Linked DNA regions of Homo sapiens: all the other regions are linked to region 3. The links come from fine-mapping of genetic effects on gene expression. A gene starts in region 3. Each other region holds a variant in brackets. All regions are shown on one strand. Distances are between the middles of the regions. Region 1 overlaps RAB20 (RAB20, member RAS oncogene family). Region 2 overlaps COL4A1 (collagen type IV alpha 1 chain). Region 3 holds the start of RAB20 (RAB20, member RAS oncogene family). Region 4 overlaps RAB20 (RAB20, member RAS oncogene family).

What was found. PIP is the estimated chance that this variant, and not a neighbour inherited with it, causes the effect.
Region 1: its variant is the best candidate, but not a certain one, in a credible set for the expression of RAB20 in whole blood (TOPMed, PIP 0.66).
Region 2: its variant is the best candidate, but not a certain one, in a credible set for the expression of RAB20 in whole blood (TOPMed, PIP 0.67).
Region 4: its variant is the best candidate, but not a certain one, in a credible set for the expression of RAB20 in whole blood (TOPMed, PIP 0.72).

The regions. Positions count from the first base shown.
Region 1 is chr13:110,531,249-110,536,394 of GRCh38, forward strand. The region is part of intron 1 of RAB20 (RAB20, member RAS oncogene family); the gene reads right to left. Among named protein-coding and RNA genes, the nearest start is that of COL4A2-AS1, 26 kb to the left of the region's middle. RefSeq lists enhancers at 1-126, 2,948-3,730. The variant A/G (reference allele first, on the strand shown) is at 3,019.
Region 2 is chr13:110,159,657-110,164,802 of GRCh38, forward strand. COL4A1 (collagen type IV alpha 1 chain) reads right to left here. Exons shown (of 52, transcript NM_001845.6): 47 at 3,807-3,905; 48 at 2,574-2,786; 49 at 1,536-1,713. Among named protein-coding and RNA genes, the nearest start is that of LINC03082, 33 kb to the left of the region's middle. The variant T/C (reference allele first, on the strand shown) is at 2,337.
Region 3 is chr13:110,559,370-110,564,515 of GRCh38, forward strand. It overlaps RAB20 (RAB20, member RAS oncogene family), which reads right to left and starts at 2,353. Exons shown (of 2, transcript NM_017817.3): 1 at 1,979-2,353. The coding sequence starts at 2,150. RefSeq lists silencers at 1,913-1,972, 1,952-2,141, 2,033-2,482.
Region 4 is chr13:110,518,714-110,523,859 of GRCh38, forward strand. RAB20 (RAB20, member RAS oncogene family) reads right to left here. Exons shown (of 2, transcript NM_017817.3): 2 at 4,353-5,146. The coding sequence ends at 4,952. Among named protein-coding and RNA genes, the nearest start is that of COL4A2-AS1, 13 kb to the left of the region's middle. RefSeq lists an enhancer at 3,143-3,222. The variant A/G (reference allele first, on the strand shown) is at 2,920.

The DNA.
Region 1 (5,146 bases), 28 kb before region 3:
AGAGGAAGGGGCCTAGGGCCCCTTTGAGGTGGGCTGCTGGGCAGGAGAAAAGCCTGCCTCCACCCTGTGATCCCACAGAGCACAGGCATTTGCAGAATGCAGCCACCTTCCCAGGAGCTCCAAATTTTACGCAGAGAACTATCCTGGAAGTGCCGGCTAATTCGCTGGGCAGGGACTGCAGAGCGTTCTGGTAAACAGCCCCCACTCTAGAGACAGACTACATTCAAATCCCCACCGTGTGACCTTGGGCAAGTCACTTAGACATGCGGTACCTCAGTTTCCCCGTCACTAAAATGTGGGTTACACCTGCCAAAGGGTGGCTGAGAAAGCAGAATCTGCACACAGGTGAACTGGCTGGAGCTGCACCCAGCACATTAGGCCCTGTAATAGAAGTGCTTGTTCCATAAATCGTGAGATTCCTCCCAAACCTAAGGATGGATGCCACCGTCCCAGGGCTGCCCATGTCCCGGGTCTCATCATCCCTCCATTTACACACCACCTCCTGGGGCCGACTGGGCGCTTTTGCAGTGGACCAATCTTCTACGTTTCTTATTCTCAGATGATGACCTTCTCCCTGGTCCTGGGGGTGCTCCGGATGTTGCCAGATCAGTGGAGCTGACATGGCCCAGGGTTCAGGCAGAAGGGGAAGGGAAGTCAGCACCCACAGTAATCCTGATTCACTGTTGCGGAACCAAAAACTGCCCAAGTGCTTTCCATTTCACTCTTCAGCCTTCCCAAAGCCAAACACAGCCAGGCTTCTACCCCAAGTGTTGTGTCGTTTTCACTATTGGTTTAAATAAGAGTGGGTTGAGATAGCCATCAGAAGCCACGGACACCCTTGGCTCACATCTTAAGCATGGGGTGGGGAGACTTAAAAAATACTGATGCTCAGACCCTGACCCAGCTGCCAGGGCAAGAGTGGGGCTGGCATTTGTATCAGCTTTAAAAGCGCCCCAGGTGAATACCAGGTGCACCAGGAGTGAAAATCAGCAATTTACCCAGTGAAAGTGGGAAATAAAAGGGCAGCTATTGAAATGTAAGAATTAGAAAGCTTGGTATTTCAATTCATTGAAAAGTGAGCCCTACCAGGAAATGCAAACACTGAGACAACAGGAACTTTCATTATTTATTTATTTACTTTTTCTTGAGACAGAGTCTTGCTCTGTTGCCCAGGCTGGAGTGCAGTGATGCAATCTCAGCTCACTGCAAACTCCACGTCCAGGGTTCAAGCAATTCTCCTGCCTAAGCCTCCCTAGTAGCTGGGATTACAGGCACACACCACCAAGCCCAGCTAATTTTTGTACTATTAGTAGGGACAGGGTTTCACCATGTTGGCCAGGCTGGTCTCAAACTCCTGACCTCAAGTGATCCACCCACCTTGGACTCCCAAAATGCTGGGATTACAGGCGCGAGGCACCACGCCCAGCCTATTTAATTATTATTTTTTTGAGACAGAGTCTTGCTCTGTCACCCAGGCTGAAGTGCAGTGGTACGATCATGGCTCAATGCAGCCTCCATCTTCTGGGCTTAAGTGTTCCTCCCAACTCAGCCTCCCGAGTAGCTGGGACCACAGGTGCATACCACTACACCCAGCTAATTTCTTTTATGTTTGTGTAGAGATGGGGACTTACTATGCTACCCAGGCTGGTCTTGAACTCCTGGGTTCATGCTATATTCCCAACTTGGCCTCCCAAAGTGCTGGGGTCACAGGCATGAGCCACTGTGCCCAGCGGAGAACAGAAACTTTTAAGATGAGTTCTCTGCCTTGCCAGATCGGACAGCCCCCTGGCAGGGAGCTCACAAAACATCGATGTGACAACCTGAGGAAAGGAAAAGTGCATATTCCCAGACCAGAGATGGGAGCAAAATAAGCAACTCCAGCAATGGCACCAGCAGCAGCGCAGCCTAGAGGAGCTGTGACACACTTCCCATCAGAGATTGTTCAAAAACACCACGACATGCTTTCTCCAGTGTTTGCAGGTTGCATCCACAAATACGAGCCAAAAGGTTATTTTAGTTCTATTTTGTAAAGTTGATGAGTTTTGGCTAAAGTTGAGAGTCATGGGACCATCTCCACAGGCATGATCTACATTCCCTCTAGGTTTGTTTTTTTAAAACCGATAGTGAACTTGGTTAAATAATGGTGCGTGGAGGCCAGGCACAGTGGTTCATACCTGTAATCCTAGCACTTCAGAAGGCTGATGTGGGAGGATCCCTTGAGCCCCTGAGTTTGAGACCAGCCTGGGTGACACAGTGAGTCCCTATCTCTACAAAAAAAAATTTAAAAATGAGCTGGGTATGATGGTATGTGCCTGTAGTCCCAGCTACTCTGAGGAGGCTGAGGCAGGAGGATCGCTTAAGCCCAGGAGGTTGGGCTGCAGTGAGCTGGGATACTGCCACTGCACTCTAGCCCGGGCAGCAGAGCAAGACCCTATCTCAAAAAGAGAGAATGGGATGTGGAAGCAACCATCCCCTCAGGAGCATTAGAAAAGAATAAATAATTGACTACTATAACCAACACTGTATTCAATTGTTTGTTGATTTTAGTGCAGTAAGGAAGGCCCACAAGAGTCCCTGGGTGCATGAATGGAGCTGGGCTGCCTGGAGCCAGCACAGGGCCTGGCTGGACACACCTGCCCCCACCAGTACGTGGAAAGTGGAGAGCTAGCAGGCAAGGGCCCCACGCAGTGGGCAGGCCCTCCCCCCAGAACCCACATGCACCAAAGCCTCCAGAGAGCCAATGGCTTGCCAGCCTCCACCCACCGTGATGGGGAACTGTATCTGGTCGGGCCCCGGTGCCCAGCAGTTTGGTCCTGCACTAGCCTGGACATGGCTGGGAAGGTGTTTTTTAGGTGGGATCAGCATTTACATCAGTGGATGTGAGAAAGCAGACAGTGCTCTGTGATGTGGTAGGCCTCGTCTAATCAGCTGATGGCCTGAGAAGTAAAGACTGAGCTCTTCCAGACACGAAGGAATTCAGCCCCCAGACAGCAACAAAGCAACCTTGCCTGAGCTCAC[A/G]CACCCTCTGTCAGGTCTGTTTCTCTGGGGAAGCCTGGCTGCCTTATTCACGTGGACTGCTCACTTGCTTCCCTGGGATGGAGGCTGTCTGCAAAGCTGAGGCTCTCCAGAGAGGCCTGTACAGCTCCCCCATTTTCAGGCTGTCCCCTGAGGCCGAGCCCCTACAAAGAGGTGCTGCCACCGTGATGTACGAGTGTGCCGGTCAAGGGTGCCGACCACGCCCCGACCCCTGCCTTGCCCCTCAGCCAAACAAATGTCCAGGGCAGGGGAAGTGGCATGACAGGGGCTTTTCAGAAAACTGCAAGGATCACTTTGACCCAAACTGGTCACTTCTTCATTGAGGGTTCCTTGCCCGGGCAGTTATCTTTCCAAATGCTGATCCAATATGAACACCCTCTACTGTGCACCCCAGGGGGCTTCCTAGCAGGCTTCAAAAGAGTGTGAACTCCACAAAACTGGACCTCATCATAAATGCACAAGTCCTCTCCTGCCAGCTGTTCAGCAACTAAACAGTAAAATAGGAAAAATATGATTTCCAAAACGAAGAGCAGAAGACATATCCAGCAATATTTTTTTGTGGAAACAGAGACAGGGTCTCGCTCTGTCACCCAGGCTGGAGTGCAGTGGCTCAATCATGGCTCACTGCAACCTCATCCTCCTGGGCTCAAGCGATCCTCCCACCTCAGCCTCCCAAGCAGGTGGGACTACAGGTGTGTACCACCACGCCTGGCTAATTTTTTAATTTTTAGTAGAGATGAGGTCTCACTAAGTTGCCCAGCCTGGTCTCAAACTCCTGAGCTCAAGTGATCCCCCCGCTTTGCCCTTCTAAAGTGCTGGGATTACAGGCCTGAGCCACCACGCCCAGCCCAGGAACATCTTTTACTGGCAGAGATGGAGAATGTAGTGAGAAATTTAAATTCAGAATTCTTCCTCATTTTGAAAAGCACACATCTCACCTAGAACTAGCCACATCTCTAAGTCCAAGCCACGTGTGGCCAGTGGCTACCATGCTGGATGGCACAGAGCAGACTCTGCTCAGAGCCGGAGACCCCCAACCCGAACCCACCCTGAACACCAGGTACAGTTCCTGGACCACAGCAGACACTCACGGGCTGCTTGGAACAGGCATGAAGGAGGCGTGAAGTTACAGAAACGAATAAATAACACATGAGGCTAATTCATACAACCACTTCGTGGGTCACGTCTTCATGGATCCTTAAACCACTCTGGGAAGTCTCTGTTTTCCATTTTCGCAGATCTACAAGTCAAGGCTCAGAGACTCTACTGGCGAGATTGGAACCCATTCCCTAGATTCCACCTCTCCTCCTCCTGCCTGCTCTGAGTGCCTCACAGCTTGGGCCCTTCCATTAAATGCCTGTGCAGTGACTAACTTTTCACAGGCAGCCGTGAAGCACCGCACACACCCGGCACGCTGGGCCCAGGCCTTCCACGCAGTGGCTGGCCCAGCGCCTCTGAGCGCCCACTGGACCACACCATGCTCTCAGCCCAGCAGCAGTACCCAAAGCTCCGGCCGCGCAAGGCCTTCCAACACAGAAATGGATTTCATTTCTCTCCTTGAAGGTGAACCAGAGGGCAGGAAACAGCACTTTCTGTTTAAAAATGGAATCATAAATGTATTATTATGGGTTCAAAAATATACATTCAAGTCTTCATCTCTGGCACCCATGAATGTGGCCTCATTTGGAAACAGGGTCTCTGCAGAAGTGATTAGCTAAAATGTGACCACATGGAGTACGGCAGACCCTTAATCACATCTAACTGGTGTCCTTATTAGAGAAGACACCCGGAGACACAGGGGCAAAGACGATGTGAAGGCAGACCCCCGGGGAGGAGACCATGGGGAAACAGAGGCAGAGATGAGAGCCACAGCTCCGCAGGCAAGGACGGCCAGCACCAGTCAGGAGCTGGACAGTGGCGGGAACAGCCTCTCCCTGGAGCCTCCTGAGGTGCACGGCCCTGCCGACGCCAGTTCAGACCCTACCTCCAGGATGGGGAGAGGATGAGCTTCTGCTGTTTGAAGCCCTCCCACTTTGTGGAACTTGGTGACTCAGACCCCTACTAAAGCATGGACTGGGCGGCAGGTGGATGGCCTCCCCCTAGACAGGCA
Region 2 (5,146 bases), 400 kb before region 3:
TCATAGCAGCATTGTTCACAATAGCTGAGGTGTGGACAAAACCTAAGTGTCCAGTGACAGAGGAATGGAGAAACAAAACGTGGCACCTATGCACAATGAAATATTATTTGGCCCTAAGTAGGAAAGAAATCCTATCACATGCTATAATATAGATGAACCCTGAGGACATTATGCTGAGTGAAACAGGCCAGTGACAAAAGGAAAAATACTGTATGATTCCACTTACATGAGGTGTCTACGGGGGTCAAATTCACAGGGACAGAAAGTAGAATGGGGGGTCACCAGAGGCTGGCAGGAGGGATGTGGAGTCAGTGTTTAACAGGGACAGAGTTTGAGTTTGGGAAAATAAAAAAGTTCAGGAGACGGATGGCGGTGATGGTAAAACAACACTGCAAATGTACTTAATGCCACTACACTGTGCACTGAAAAATTATTAAGATGGTAAATGTTATGTTATGTCCATTTTACCAAAATTAAAAATAACTTTTAAAAAAATTCATAGGGGGCCGGGCGCGGTGGCTCACGCCTGTAATCCCAGCACTTTGGGAGGCCGAGGCGGGTGGATCATGAGGTCAGGAGATCGAGACCATCCTGGCTAACAAGGTGAAACCCCGTCTCTACTAAAAATACAAAAAATTAGCCGGGCGCGGTGGCGGGCGCCTGTAGTCCCAGCTACTCGGGAGGCTGAGGCAGGAGAATGGCGTGAACCCCGGGAAGCGGAGCTTGCAGTGAGCCGAGATTGCGCCACTGCAGTCCGCAGTCCGGCCTGGGTGACAGAGCGAGACTCCGTCTCAAAAAAAAAAAAAAAAATTCATAGGGGCAGGGATGATTCAGAAAACAATGTCTTAAAAGGCTCCTTGGGGAAGCTGTTACTTTTTAAAAAGAAAGATTGAGCAACACTGTTCCAACGCTTGCTGAAGAATCGAGTGGCATCACCTTGCTCACAGGAGGAAAGGCAACCACCACAGTGAGTCAGGCAAAATATAAATTATCTCTGCAAGCCTGGCATTATCTCACCATGGTTTTGCACCACAATTTTAAAAGAGAATAGCTGACTCTTTTTTCTTTTTGAGACAGGTTCTCACTCTGTTGCTCAGGCAGGAGTGCAGTGGTGTGGTCTCAGTTCACTACAGCCTCAACATCCCAGGCTTAAGTGATCCTCCCACCTCAGCCTCCCTCGTAGCTGGGACCACAGGCTCACACCACCACGCCCAGCTAACTTTTGTATTTTTTGTGGAGATGAAGTCTCGTCATCTTGCCCAGGCTGGTCTTGAACTCCTGAGCTCAAGCAACCCTCTCGCCTCGGCTTCCCAAAGTGTTGGGATTACGGGCATGAGCCACTGTGCCCAGCCAACTGACTTTTATGTCAAATAATTTTTATGGTAGATTTCCATTACAAAACTCGAATATCACAAATAATAAGCTAAATGGCAATGGATTCAACGTTTTGGAGAAAAATAGAAAACATATGCTTGTCCAGACTAGAGACTTTTCCTCTTCAATTTTGCATTTGTTCCTACAGATGCTCGACTCACCTACTAATAAATGGTCTTATGTTTTCCCCCGTGATGGGTGCCATTGACATGGGCATGGGCTCAGGGGTGGACAGCCAGTACGAGTAGTCATTTCGTGATGCAAAGTTGCACACGTTGTTAATATTGCAGAACAGGAAGGGCATTGTGCTGAACTTGCGCAGGCAGCTGCCGGCCGTGCCTAGACAAGGAAGAAGACAATGTGAGATGTTTCCTTTATAATTCACAATCTATCTCTATGTAAAGTGGATTTCAGCTGGACAACAAGCAAAAACATATAATCAACATAATCACTGAAATGGAAATGTATAAAGGATTATGTAGGACATTTTTGATGAAAGGAAACAAAACCAGTTTACCAGCACAAAGAAACCTTTTCCTAAAGCTGAATTCTAGAAGGAACTTAACACATGGTTCGTTATACGATGGATAGTAACAAATTGGGCAATGTCTTTCACAACAGTTTTGCAGAAAATGCAGATGCTCTTTCTATAGCAGCTTGCTGATTCTAACCCTGATAAAAGTTAAAGGCAGAGAAAATTAAAACACAGTTTGGTGGAGGATATCTGGGTCAGATTAAGATAATGAGGACAGATATGTAGCTTTCTGCTGATCTAAACTAGAGGAGCAGAGCTCAGCAGCTGTAGAGAATTTCAGACAGGATAACATGGACCTTTTTTTTTACAAAGAGCAATGGTTAAGCCGCATCAATGCAAATTGTTAAGTGCACTCCAGGAATCTTGATCCTACTTGATAATTTGAAGATGAGATCTAAAGTTTTATTAATTTAAAGATTTTCGAAGA[T/C]TCAGTCTCCACATTTCTTGGCTTGCCATTAGTAATACAGCAGCTGTTGAACCGATTATTTGTAATCAATGGAGGGAAATGGGGCCGGGCTGCTTTTTCACTGGCTACCGCCCTCATGGCGCAGTGTTTCACTCGCTACTGCCCTCACTGCAGCAGCAGAGGCGAGTCCAGCACTGCACACCGAAGGCACTCAACACACCTACACTGAATGAATGCATGGATCTGCAGGCTTCTTACCCAAGTCCTGGCCATGGGCCCGTTCATTGCCTTGCACGTAGAGCAAAGAGTACCCGTGGTAAAGAATTTTGGTCCCAGAAGGACACTGTGGGTCATCTATTGTTTGACTATGCCTGGTCACAAGGAAGCCGTGATCAACAGATGGGGTGCCTGGGGGCCCCATGGATCCTGGCAACCCATCGGGGCCTGGTGGACCTGGAAATCCTCTTGGACCTGGAAGATAGGAGACAAATTAGTTTCCCTAATTACAAACACGCTCCCCTAAAGGCTTTCAAAATCATTTTCTCCAAAGAGTTTTTAATATTTTATATTTCCACAAAGTATCCTACCTATTCATGTTACCAAAAAAGTCTAAAAAGAATGCATGGCTAACTAAATACAGCAGCCTACCTCCTTCATGGTGTCTTAACTTTTTCTTTTTACCTGCCACCTCAAGATATTTTTATAAGCACAGTTCTCGGTGCAGAGCAGATGCTTGAACAATTTAGTTCAATGAATATATGACACATATGAAAATGGATATATGAATAAATGAAAATAAATGAATGACGTGACTCTGTGCATGTCATTCACACGGAATCGTGGGGCTCCTGTTGGGGAGGACTATCATAGAATTATTAAACAACCTCATCTTAAGGTGTTTCTTCCTCCATAGCAGCCCAAAGCCTGCGTATGGAAATGGAGCAGTAAGGGACCTCGCAGGCAAGGCCTGCTTCTGTCCCCTCTCTAACTGTGCCACGTGCCAAACTGTGCCCAGGTCTGCTGGGCTGAGCTCTTTGTTCAATTAGTCAGTGGCCTCAGCCTTTTGCATCATAGCCTTCACCGGACACTCGAGTGTGCCTTCTCCTAAGGAAGCAGATCAAGTTCATCCCATGCCTTTGGGCCAATGCTGGCATTATTTTCATTTCTACTTCCCTTGTCCTTTGCTGAAATAGAATTTTCACAGCTGCAGCTCACATCCCACTTAGGAAACCACATGGGCCACCACTATTGGCTGCCTTTCAACAACATCTGGGAAACGTACACTTTGATCAATATCTGTCTCTACACAGAAAAAAGAACACTTCTTCAGCTCTTCTATTTGATTCTATTTCTTCTAAGAAACAGACTTCTTCGGAAATCTGTCAAGTGATATATCCAACTTCATTCTGCTGTTTCCCCATGCCTGGTTCTGCTCCTTCTATCCCAAAGATCCTGGTCAAGGGTAATTACGTTGGAAGTTTCGCAACCTACCAGTAGGCCCGGCAGGTCCCATCTCTCCTTTCTGGCCAGGGGCACCGTCAAACCCAGGAATACCTGGAGGTCCAGGTATACCCACCAATCCTGTAACACCTGAGGCAGAGGAAAAATAATTTATGATCCTGTATGGCAGTAAGCTGTATCTCTTTCTTCCCTTCTTAAATGTCCTTTTCAGTGTTCAAGGAGCCAAGCATAAAGTCTCACTGCAGATGAGAACGTTTTCTCGGACAGCCAGGAGTTGCTTCCCACAAAGTCGAGTACAGACTTTGCAGAAGCAGCTGGATATTCATAAGGGGGTGTGTGTTTGGGCACCTCGTTCTGAGTTCTCCCTGGTTTCTTGCTGTTTGGCAGATTGGTTTGGAAAAGGCAGGTGATGTGGAGGGAATGAGAGACTGGATAACTTTCCCTCTCAGCCATATACTGGGGTCTCAATTTTTAGGCAACAGATATACCAACATGGATAGTTTTTTTGTTTTCATGTACATAGCTTGTTCTTCTTCTTTCTTTCTCTCTCTCTTTTTTTTTTTTTTTTTTTTTTGAGACAGGGTCTCGCTCTGTCACCCAGGCTGGAGTGCAGTGGTGTGACCACCGCTCACTGCAGCCTCGACCTCCCGGGCTCAAGCGATTCTCCTACCTCAGCCTCTCGAGTAGCTGGGACTACAGGTATGCACTACCACACCTGGCTAATTTTATCATTATTATTTTGTAGAGACAGACTCTCCCTATGTTGCCCAGGCTGGTCTTGAACTCCTGGGCTCAAGTGATCCTCCCACCTCAGCCTCCCAAAAAGCCGGCATTACATAGGTGTGACCCAGTGAGCCTGGCTAGCTTATTCTTAAGTATCATTAAATTTTCTTTGATGCTTTCAACTTTAAAATGTTTTCATTCTCCTTTACTTCCCACCCACTCCTTATCAGTAGCTCTTCAAATAGGAGATGTTTCACTCAAATAAGCAGAAGACTATGTTAGGGTTTCAGGAAATAACAGAGAATTGTACAGACAGTGCCAATCAGGCAGCGCTCCTGGGGGCATGGATGGAGAGCACCGATTTTTACCATTCCAGATTGCTACATGCCACCCCCATCTGGAGCGGGAGGCAGGAGGGGGAAAGGTAATGATCTGGTTCTTTGAGCCCATGTTTTTCTAACTGAACACAGATGTGTTGTTATGTGTTCCTCTAGCTTTTCCTGGGTTTTCTTCTGGATTTTTTTTAGGTCCCTTTAAAAATGTCATAGGTTTTGATATGCATTGAAGGGAGGTAAGAAACTCATATTCATATGTGTGTGTATAATCATTACCCAGAAACTTATTTTAGATACATGGGTGAGGAGGAA
Region 3 (5,146 bases):
AGCAAAAGAAGGAAAAGAACAGGGTCCCCTAAATGTTAAATTCTGAATTTCCAACAATTATAGAAAAGGTATCTGTTCCTACCTCTCTTTTCCCTTCAAGTACCCGGTCAGGCCACAGGCCACCGAGGAGGCAGGCAAGGGTGCCCTGTGTCCCTGCCAACTCTGGGCAAGGGCCGCCTGAGTGTGTACACAGGAAGTCAGGAATGTGGAGAAGGGGCCTGGCCACTCTCTGTTCTGAGGAGCTCTAGTAATTCACCCTTAGGATCTTTCGAACAAGCAGCAGCAGCCTCGGATGCCAGGAAATGAGCTGCTGCCCCCCAGTAACGCTTCAAGACATCTGGGGCGTCACATCAGCACAACTGCAAAATCTCTGGTGATCAGGATTCCGGCTGCATCACGTCCTTGGTGCTGAAGAAGCAAGAGGCCAGTGGAAACGAAACTGCTGCTTCATTCCCTCCGATGCAGGGGCCGTTCCAGCACTGCAGGGCAGCTCTTGTTCCAGAAACACACCGTGTGTTAAGAGTCTGCCTCCAACGGTGGCCACTACAGGGGTTTCGGTTAGGGTCCCCCAATAACACTCCTGCATTAACCTTGCTACTTGTAAACCAAGGGCAGCAGTAAATCCCAGCCAACCAGCAAAAGCAGCAGAGGGGCAAAGCTTTGTACAAAACCAAATTGGGTTCAATTTGACTTTGTACAGAAGCAAATTGGGTTCGTGAATTGGGTTCGATTTGACTTCTAGAGCGTGTGTTCCATCGTTACCAAATGCTCAGTGTGAGGGAGTCAGCTCAGTAAACCTCATCCTGCAGCCTGAGGCAGAAGACAGAGTTGGAGCAAAGATCAGGGAAATGCACCTCTTTACCTGGGGGACATTGTTTTCACAAGATGATTGCCAATAAATTAGTCACGATGTTAACTGGGATAATAATAAAAAAGCATCAAAGAAGGCAAAAGGGAGGGGGAGAACTGGAAGTACCTCTGTGAGCTTCGTTAATTCAGTTTTAAAGAGAGAATTCATTATCATCTTGTTTATTCAGCATACTGATACACCCAAGATGGCAATTTAAGAATTCTGGACGGGGCCTTTGGGTATATGACTTTTTAAGATGCTAACATAAAAGAAGTCAGAACTTTCAGAGTTTCAGGCTTCTAAAAACTCACACTCATTGAAAATGTGTCACACTATTTCCAGTTTCTTCATTCACTTACAATATCTTATTCTTTTGTAAGGAGAAGGAAATATATTCCATTGCAATGCTACAATCACCAGTGTTATTTTCCAAAGTTAAACAGAAAGCCTGAATTGAGATCCTCTAAGTTGTACTTTTGAAAAGTCACAAATACTACACAATAAAAATAACTCATTACCTATCTTAAAAATGCTTCCACCGGAAGTCACTCCAACCCAAACCCATATGACGTATCTGAGCCAAGATCAAGCAGAAGATTAACTGTAAAAGGCAGATATGCTCCGGGCTAAGAGGTCCGGAGGCTCCAGTTTTATTTCCTCTCTCCTGACTAAACCCAACAGGGGGGAACACTCTGTGCCTCATTTTACTTTTTCTTAGAAAGGGGCTAATAACACCAGCTCTGCTCACCCCTCAAGTGAATCTCAAAGGATATCATGTTCCTACGGGTACGTGAAAACTGAAAATACCTAACAAAGCAGCCACAGAGGAGCGTCTCTGGTTCCCAGGGCGGCAGAGCAGGAACGCGGGGCTCGGGAGCAAAGGCAGCTTAGGTACACAAATGACCAGCGGGTTCTCTGCAACTTGGGTTGTCCCTGAGGTCACTGAGTGGCTGAGAGGCAGCGCTCAGCCCAACCAGCAAGGGAGGACGAGTGGGAAACCCCGAGAAGGAGGCATTTGCTGTCCGAGGCCGGGACCCTGTGCGCGGCCGGGTGCCCTGCTGGAAGCCCCGCGCCCCCCGTCCCCGGCGGAGCCCCAGGGCGGTGTGGCTCATGCGGCGCCGGCCTCACCTGCGGTGTCCCAGATGGAGATGTTGTAGGAGCGCCACTGCTTCAGGTAGAAGGCGCCGCCCACCGTGCTGACCGTGTCCGGGAAGCGCCGCTCCATATACCGCTGCAGCAGCGACGTCTTCCCCACGTTCATGTCCCCCAGGAGCACGATCTTGCTGTCGGGCTTCCTCATCTTCCCGTAAGAACCCCCAGCGCCCCCGCGCCCTCTCCCCGAGGCTGGCCGGCTCGTGCGCCCTGGGCGCAGCTGGAGGAGCGGACCCCGGACTCGCCGGGACCCGGATTCTCGTGAACGCTCCGGGACCTTCGCCTCCGGACGCCCGGGAGCTCAAGAGAGGAAGCGCGTGTGCGCGCCCGGGAAGGAGCTGGGTGCAGAGCACGGAGCCCACGTCGGGGGCCCGGACCGCGGCGGCCTCGCCTCGCCCCGCCCCCGCCCCCGCCCCCGGGCCCTTTCACCGCCGCGGCCCCGCCCTATCCTCCTCCGCCCACCGCCCCCGTCCCGCCCCTGCTGGACCTCGCCGTTTCGCAAGCATCCGAGTTCTCCAGCCGAGGCTCGGGACTGCTGCAGGGTGGAAAATGAAAGTTCTGAGAGCACCTTCCGCCCCTCCGCTTCTGCACAGCCGGGGCTGCGGTGCGAGGAGCTTGGCCGCGGGGCCCGAACGAGGCGAAGGGGCCGGGGCCCTTGGGGAACCCCCTTCTCTCTTCCACTCTCCCTTAGGTAAAACCCGTGTTCCTCTCACGCTCGACCCAGCGCCTTTCCAGCTGCGGTCGATTTGCTTCTCCGCGTGTAAGTACAGCCACCCTCAAGGTCATTGAAAAAGTTTGCTTTAAATGAGCGTCTGCGGAACTCGTCCTGAGGCTCTCACTGTTACAGATTAGAGATGGGGGCGCTTTCTAGTGGAGGATTTTGCTTTTGCTCTTCTACTTTTGCAAGAAGCTTTTTGTCCTGAAAAGTGGACAGTCATCTCCATTTATAGCTTGGAATGAAAATTTGACTATGGAAGTTGCAGTCGCTACTTGAGAAATATTTCCTCCTTCTTTTTTTTTTTTTTTTTTTATTTTTGACACGGAGTTTTGCTGTTGTTGCCCAAGCTGGAGAGCAGTGCGCGATCTCGGCTCACTGCAACCTCCGCCTTCCGGTTTCAAGCGATTCTCCTGCCTCAGCCTCCCGAGTAGGCGGGATTACAGGTATGTGCCACCATGCCCGGCTAATTTTTGTATTTTTAGTAGACACGGGGTTTCACCATGTTGGCCAGGCTGGTCTCGAACTCCTGACCTCGTGATCCACCCGCTTCGGCCTCCCAGGTCCTCCTTCCGTTTTAAAGGATAAACCTTGAAATGCTTTTAAAATATGCAGCGTGTAGAATTTGGTTAGTTGGTTGGTTGGGGTTTTTTAGAGAAAATGAGAGGTAGAATGGACTCTAAGTTAAACCCTGGGGGACAGTGTCACTCTGGCCGCTGGCCTGGCTGGGAAAGGCGATGAGACCCTGAGCAGGTTAAAACCCGTGTCCTGAAGGTGTCCTGTAAAGGGAAATAGGCCCGTTGCCTCCTTCGTAGGTGCCCTGAGACTCCGACAAGGCAGGAATGCCAAGGTATTTCGTACCTGCTCAGCCCTGGCATGTCAGGTTGCTGAGACCGAGCAGTGTGGGGCTGAGGTGGAAGCGGACCTTCTGGGGCGTGGAAAGCGCACCAGGAGACCCCGGCTCCTTCTCAGCCAGCACTGCCTCATCCTCAGAACAAATTTAAGTCAATTCAGCATTTATTCAATGCCTGTTGCATGCAAGTGACAACCTAAATAACAGAGAGGATCTCTAAAAGAAACAGATATTTATTTTGCAATAGAGCTTTGCAGTAGAAATATGCATGCCATGGTAAACTTGTGCATATTCAGAGAGGCAAGGAAAGCAAAGGCTTTAAAAAAAATGAGGCGGATTGCACAATTGTTTGAAAATAATTATCTGTGGCTACAAAGATCCATAACGAAGGCGATGCCAGTTCAAAGTAGGACAGCCAGTGGCTGGGCCATGTCCTTGCAGGACTAGTTTTTTGTGGGAGATTGCAGTGGCCTTTGTGCAAGGTTGCGGTTTTTCCAGAGAGTCCTTTTTGTTATCAGGCATGCACGCGCAAGAACCCTCTCTTCATGGCCTTCCCCGGCTCTGTTTGTCAGGGTTTTCTTAACATTAGCGGCTCCATTTCGATTCTGACAATTTTCACACAAGCTACAGTGCCTGGCCTGGGACGACACAAACATGAGTCAGGTTTGGTGCCTGTTGGCCAGGCGCAGTGGCACACACCTGTAATCCCACCACTCTGAGAGGCCGAGGCAGATGGATCCTTTGAGCCCAGGAGTTCAAGATTAGCCTGGCAACATAGGGAGACCCCCGTCTCTATGAAAATTACAGAAAAAATTTGCCATGCATGGTGGTGTGCACCTGTAGTCCTAGTCCAAAGTTGCTTTGACTATTCTGGAACATTTACACTTCCATATGAATTCTGGAATCAATGTATCTAACCTCAGGAAACACATTAATGACATATATAGTTAAATTTAGGAAGAGTGGATATCTTTATAATATTAAAATGTCCCATTTATGAACATGGTATACCTCTCCATTTATTCAGCGGGTGTTCAAGGCTCACCTAGAATTTTTACACTTCTTTCTACTTTTTTACCATCAGGAAGTTTAATCACTTCCTGGAGCATGCTTTTTGATTCTCCAAATTTTACCCCCTGTCTGCTTCTCTCACCTGAGCTCTTTGTCCATTTCTTCATCCACCTACTAAGCCTTTCTACATGGATGTCTCAATATGGCAACCCACCACATCGTTCATCTGCCCTTCTGTAAATGCAGAGTCATTCATTCTTTCACCTTCTTTATAACCATATCCAATTCATCACCAAGCCCAATGGATTTTCCCTTCTAAATAAATCCCTCTAACATCTTCTCTCTCTTTTCCCACAGACGCCCACTTGTCTGGAACCTTCTTACACCTAAATAGTTAGAATCCACTCCTATTTGGTCTCCTTAACTCCAAGCTCCTGCCGTCCCAATCACTGTCAGACTAACCTTTCATAACCACTGCTTTCTCTACCCAGAGACCTGCCACGGCTCCCTACTTTCTATCTCCACAAGTCCAAATCCTGCCCCCCGCCACACACACACACACACA
Region 4 (5,146 bases), 41 kb before region 3:
GGTGGGGCTGGGAGCCAAGGCCTGGGCGTGTCTCACTCCGGCCACTGACACCCTGACCCAGGAGGCACCTTCTCGGGCCTTGGGTCCACATATCCTCCAGCAAGGTGCCCTCCAGATCCGATACCTGAGGGCTGGGCCAGTGGCTTCAAGGCAAACACAAAGTGAAGGGGAGGGACACAGAGCTTCATAACCACGCAAGGACGCTTGCTCTGAAGGCGTCAGCTCTCCCTGAAGGAGGCAGCCTGGACCACAAGGGAGGACTGGGCCCAAGAGCTTCCAGAGCAGGCACAGAGGAGGCTGAGTGCAGGCGGCACATGTATGTGCAGGGTCTCTGCTGTGCGTGCAGGGTCTTGGCTATGCATGCAGGGTCTCGGCTGTGCACACGTGCAGGGTCTCGGCTGTGCGTGCGTGCAGGGTCTCAGCTGTGCGTGCATGCAGGGTCTCAGCTGTGTGAGCAGGGTCTCAGCTGTGCGTGTGTGCAGGGTCTCGACTGTGTATGCAGGGTCTCAGCTGTGTGAGCAGGGTCTCAGCTGTGCATGTGTGCAGGGTCTCTGCTGTGCGTGCAGGGTCTCTGCTGTGCGTGCAGGGTCTTGGCTATGCATGCAGGGTCTCGGCTGTGCGCACGTGCAGGGTCTCAGCTGTGCGTGCATGCAGGGTCTCAGCTGTGTGAGCAAGGTCTCAGCTGTGCGTGTGTGCAGGGTCTCAGCTGTGTGAGCAGGGTCTCAGCTGTGCGTCCACCCACCACACCCATCCTCTCTGTCCTGTTTCGACAATGAGGCTCGAAAGATCCAGCTCTGTGAAGTGGGAGGATGGAAGACCCCTGCACACTGTGGAGAAGAGTCTGTGCTTCTAATAAGGGCATGTAAGAGGACGAGGGCACCGGCCACTCTGCCTGGCCACAGAAGGGAAGATACGACCTGGACTCCACCAACCAGGGCTGGGAGGATCTGTGCCTTTGAAATCCTCCAAACACCTGGAGGCCACACCACGGCACTCCCACCAGGGTCTCTGGGGCCCGGGTCCCACTCTTCTTCCTTCTTCAGAGGTTTGTGGTCATTGCTCAGGAGGGACTCAGCCTGGTTAGAGTCTCCCAGGAGCACGGAGTGAAGGCCGAGCTCAGAGCCATTGCCCCTTCTCTCTGGAAGACAGGCACCATCTCCATGTCTCATGGGGTCTGTCTCATGGGCCTTGAGCAGCAGCTCACCTCTGCCGGAGGGATCCATGTGCTGGGAGCACCCGTGTGCTATGGGGATCCGTGTGCTAGGGGGACCCGTGTGCTGGAGGGACCCGTATACTAGGGAGATCTGTGTGCTGGGGGAGGGGGAACCCGTGTGCTGGTGGTATCCGTGTGCTGGGGGGATCCGTGTGCTGGGGGGGAGCCGTGTGCTGGAGGGACCTGTGTGCTGGAGGGACCTACGTGCTGGGGGGATCCATGTACTGGGGAGACCCGTGTGCTGGGGAGATCCGTGTGCTGGGGAGGGAAGCCGTGTGCCGGGGAGGGAACCCGTGTGCTGGGGAGAACCTGTGTGCTGGGGGGACCTATGTGCTGGGGGGATCCATGTGCTGGTGGTATCCATGTACTGGGGGAATCCACGTGCTGGGGAGAGAACCCGTGTGCTGGGGAGGGAACCCGTGTGCTGGGGAGAACCTGGGTGCTGGGGGGACCCATGTGCTGGCGGAACCCGTGTGCTGGGGAGGGAACCCGTGTGCTGGGGAGATCCGTGTGCTGGTGGGGGAGCCCGTGTGCTGGGGGTATCCATGTGCTGGGGGGGGCCCATGTACTGGGGGGCACCCGTGTGCTGGGGTGATCTATGTGCTGGGAACATTCATGTGAGGTTGTTTTCCTGGCACAGCAGGGCTGTTTAAACCAGGAAGTTGGGTCCAGAAATGGCAACGTCATACTCTTTAAGAAACTAGGCCTGGGAGCCTGGGGAAGGGGACATTCTGACTGACAGCACCCAGATTACCACATACCCAACCCCAGGACTCCCTGACACCACTGCCAGGCACGAGGCTTTAAGGGCACTAGGAAATACCTGGTTATGAGGTGTCATTGAGGAAAGGGTTCTCATCTGCATGGGGACATGGACAGCTGGAAAGTGCAGAAGGGAGCTCCAAGACCACACACAGCCATGAACCCTGGACCGTCACTTGCTCATCTCCTCCCTGGAGTGGCCGCTTTGTACAAAGGAAAGACGGATGCTCGAGGTCACGAGCTCAAACCCACACCCAGTGGGGAAATCTGCGCCAACAGCTGAGTTGCCCAACCGAGGGATTTCAAGCTTTCCAAGAACTGACGTGGTTTCTGGAAGGAAACAGAGGCCACATGAGATGAGGGTGGGGGAGTAGGACCCAAGACCAGGCTCCCCAGCGAGGAGCCAGGCTGGTATCCAAGGTCCACTTGGAATGCAGCCCAGGACACAGGGTGCCAGGGGGCCTGTGGCGGCACTGTCATTGAAACTGTCCCAATAGCTCAGCTCCAGGAAGGGCCGTGGAGAGTGCTCAGTGAGATGTGCTGAATTAATGAGCCCCTCATGCCCTTACAAAAGCACTTGTAAGGGCAGCTGGAAGTTGCTAGCATAGGAGAGACTGCAGCGCCGACTGCCCAGAGGAACTCATTTAAAAGGAGCCCACAGGGATGCTTATTTTTAGGACAACACATATAGGATGAAATGCTTAAACAGAGTTGATGGAGAATGTGCCACCCATGGGCACCATCCCCGGAGCACGCGGCCACTCGAGGAAACAAGCTGTTGGGTGCCCGGAGCAGATGGGAAATCGAATCCAAGACTGTTCAGGAAGAACGGGCCTCAGGCATTCATACAGCCCTCCCTGCCTTCAAGCACCAACTGCAAAAACAGTGCCATATGATACTTTCTCTCCCTTCACAGCCTTCAAAGAAAGACTCTGGCCAGGGCC[A/G]GAGCTCATGCTTATGATCCCCGCACTTTGGGAGGCTGAGGCAGGAGGATTGCGTGAGCCCAGGAGTTCCAGACCAGCCTGGGAAACACAGCAAGACCTCATCTCTACAAAAAATAAAAATAAAAAATTAGCTAGGCATACTGACACACCCCTGTAGTCCCAGCTACTCGGGTGACTGAGGTGGGTGGATCACTTGTGTTCAGGAGTTCGAGGCTGCAGTGAGTGAGCTGAGATTGTGCTACTGCACTCCAGCCTGGGCAACAGAGTGAGACTCTGTCTCAAAAAAAAAAAAAAAAAAGATTCCAAGGTCTCTTTGATTAGCCTATTTCCTAGATGGGTCACTAGCAAAGATACACATTATAGAAAATAAATATAACTTCTGTCCCTACAGTGGTATATTCAACCAAGTCAATAAAAAGTCACGAGTCAGGCTGATTTGCGTTCACTTCTCAATGGGCTGCTGTTGCGAAACTGAAGTTTTAAACTCCGAAACCACATCTCAGGGGAGCTGAGGACCTGCAATCGCAGGGGTTGCCTCAGTGCTTCCTCCTGGGGTTCAAGCTCCCTTCCTTGCCTGAAAGCACTCACTCCACAGGAGCGGAGAAGTTAGGCCTGCAGCAGCCCAGAAACCGGAGAGCACAGGCCTTCAGCAAATTATGAACAGCTCCCCAGAAAACAGAGCACCCTGTAATCCCAGCATGTTGGGAGGCTGAGTAGGGAGGATTGCTTGAGTTCAAGGGTTTGAGACCAGCCTGGGCAACATGGCAAAACCCCAACTCTACCAAAAAAAAAAAAATTATTGGGGCATGGTGGCACATGCCTGTAATCCCAGCATGTTGGGAGGCTGAGTCGGGAGGATTGCTTGAACCCGGAGGTACAGTCTGCAGTGAGCTAAGATCACGCCACTGCACTCCAACCTGGTGACAGAGCAAGACCCTATCACAAAAAAAAAAAAAAAAAAGAAAGAAAACAGCACTTATGAAACCCACTGCCCAGTGCCATCTGCCCCACATTGCCTCCCAACAAACAGCCCCGACCCCAGCCTGCTTTCGTTCAGTCACATTTCTGGGAAAACAAATCTGCTGTCTCCTGGCACCTCTGTCTGACATCTTCCAATAAAGCAGCCACCCCACGGCCAGCAGCAGCAGACCCGAAGGGGGTTTCTGACTCAGAGACCTGGGTGCTCAGATGCCCCAGACTTCAGCAGAACCAGAGCTTTAAGCTTTGCTACTATTATTGGAATTCAAGTCATCAAGAAAACTAGACAGATGGGCCAATCTAAATATTCTGCAATTGGTAAGGATTTCACAGAGCTTCCGCACAAAGAGAGACGTATCTCAAGTTCACAGCCATCTCCCCAGCGCCCCCCACCCTACCCCACAGAGAGTCCCTGGGACTGGGGGTGCAAATGAAGTCAGTTCAGTCTCAATACCTAAGTTGTTCCAAAAATCCTCTTTAATAATACATGTAGCCAACATTGCTGCAATCAGTATAAAAACAAAGTTATTCCTGATTTTGTATAAATGAACACGTCGAGAGTCAGGATTATAAAGCATCAAGATACAAGTACCAAGTGGGAGGACCAAAGACAACTCACAGTGAAGAGAAACGCTTGAGAACAAGAAATGTCAGAGTTGTAGGACGTGGTAACAACCCAGGGTGCTGAAACGGTCAGAGGTGCAGGTGCAGACGCAGGCTTCTGCCTCTGCAAGGGCAAGGGGGCCGTTGGTGGCTGGCTGCAAAGGACCAGTGCCAGGCAGCGGGGCAGAGAGCACCAGGGGTCTCGACTCTGCAGATTGGGCTTTGCAGAGGATTCCTGTTTCCCACCTCCCCACCCCTCTGACAGAGACTGAGGAGACCACACACGTTGACCTCCTCTTCATAGCCAGCCATCATTTCCACTCCAACATTCTGCTGCGGGTGTCATTCTGGAAAATAATTCCTTGCTGTTCCTTGCTCCTTTCAGATCACAGCTTGCCTGGTCAGACCCCTTCCCAACATGCACAGTCTGAGTCCAGGAGGCCCTCGAAAGTCAGGCACAACACCCAGATCTGGTCCTCTTGGGTGGCTTATGACTGGATATATCCACTGTGTGTGACGGCCTCTCAGCTCTCTGCTGTAAGATCATTGGCACCACCAGGTCAAAGAGGGTCTCAAACAGGAGGTCCACATTGTAGCCGGTCTTGGCGCTGGTCTCAAAGCACATTTGCTCAGCGGCCGGCACATC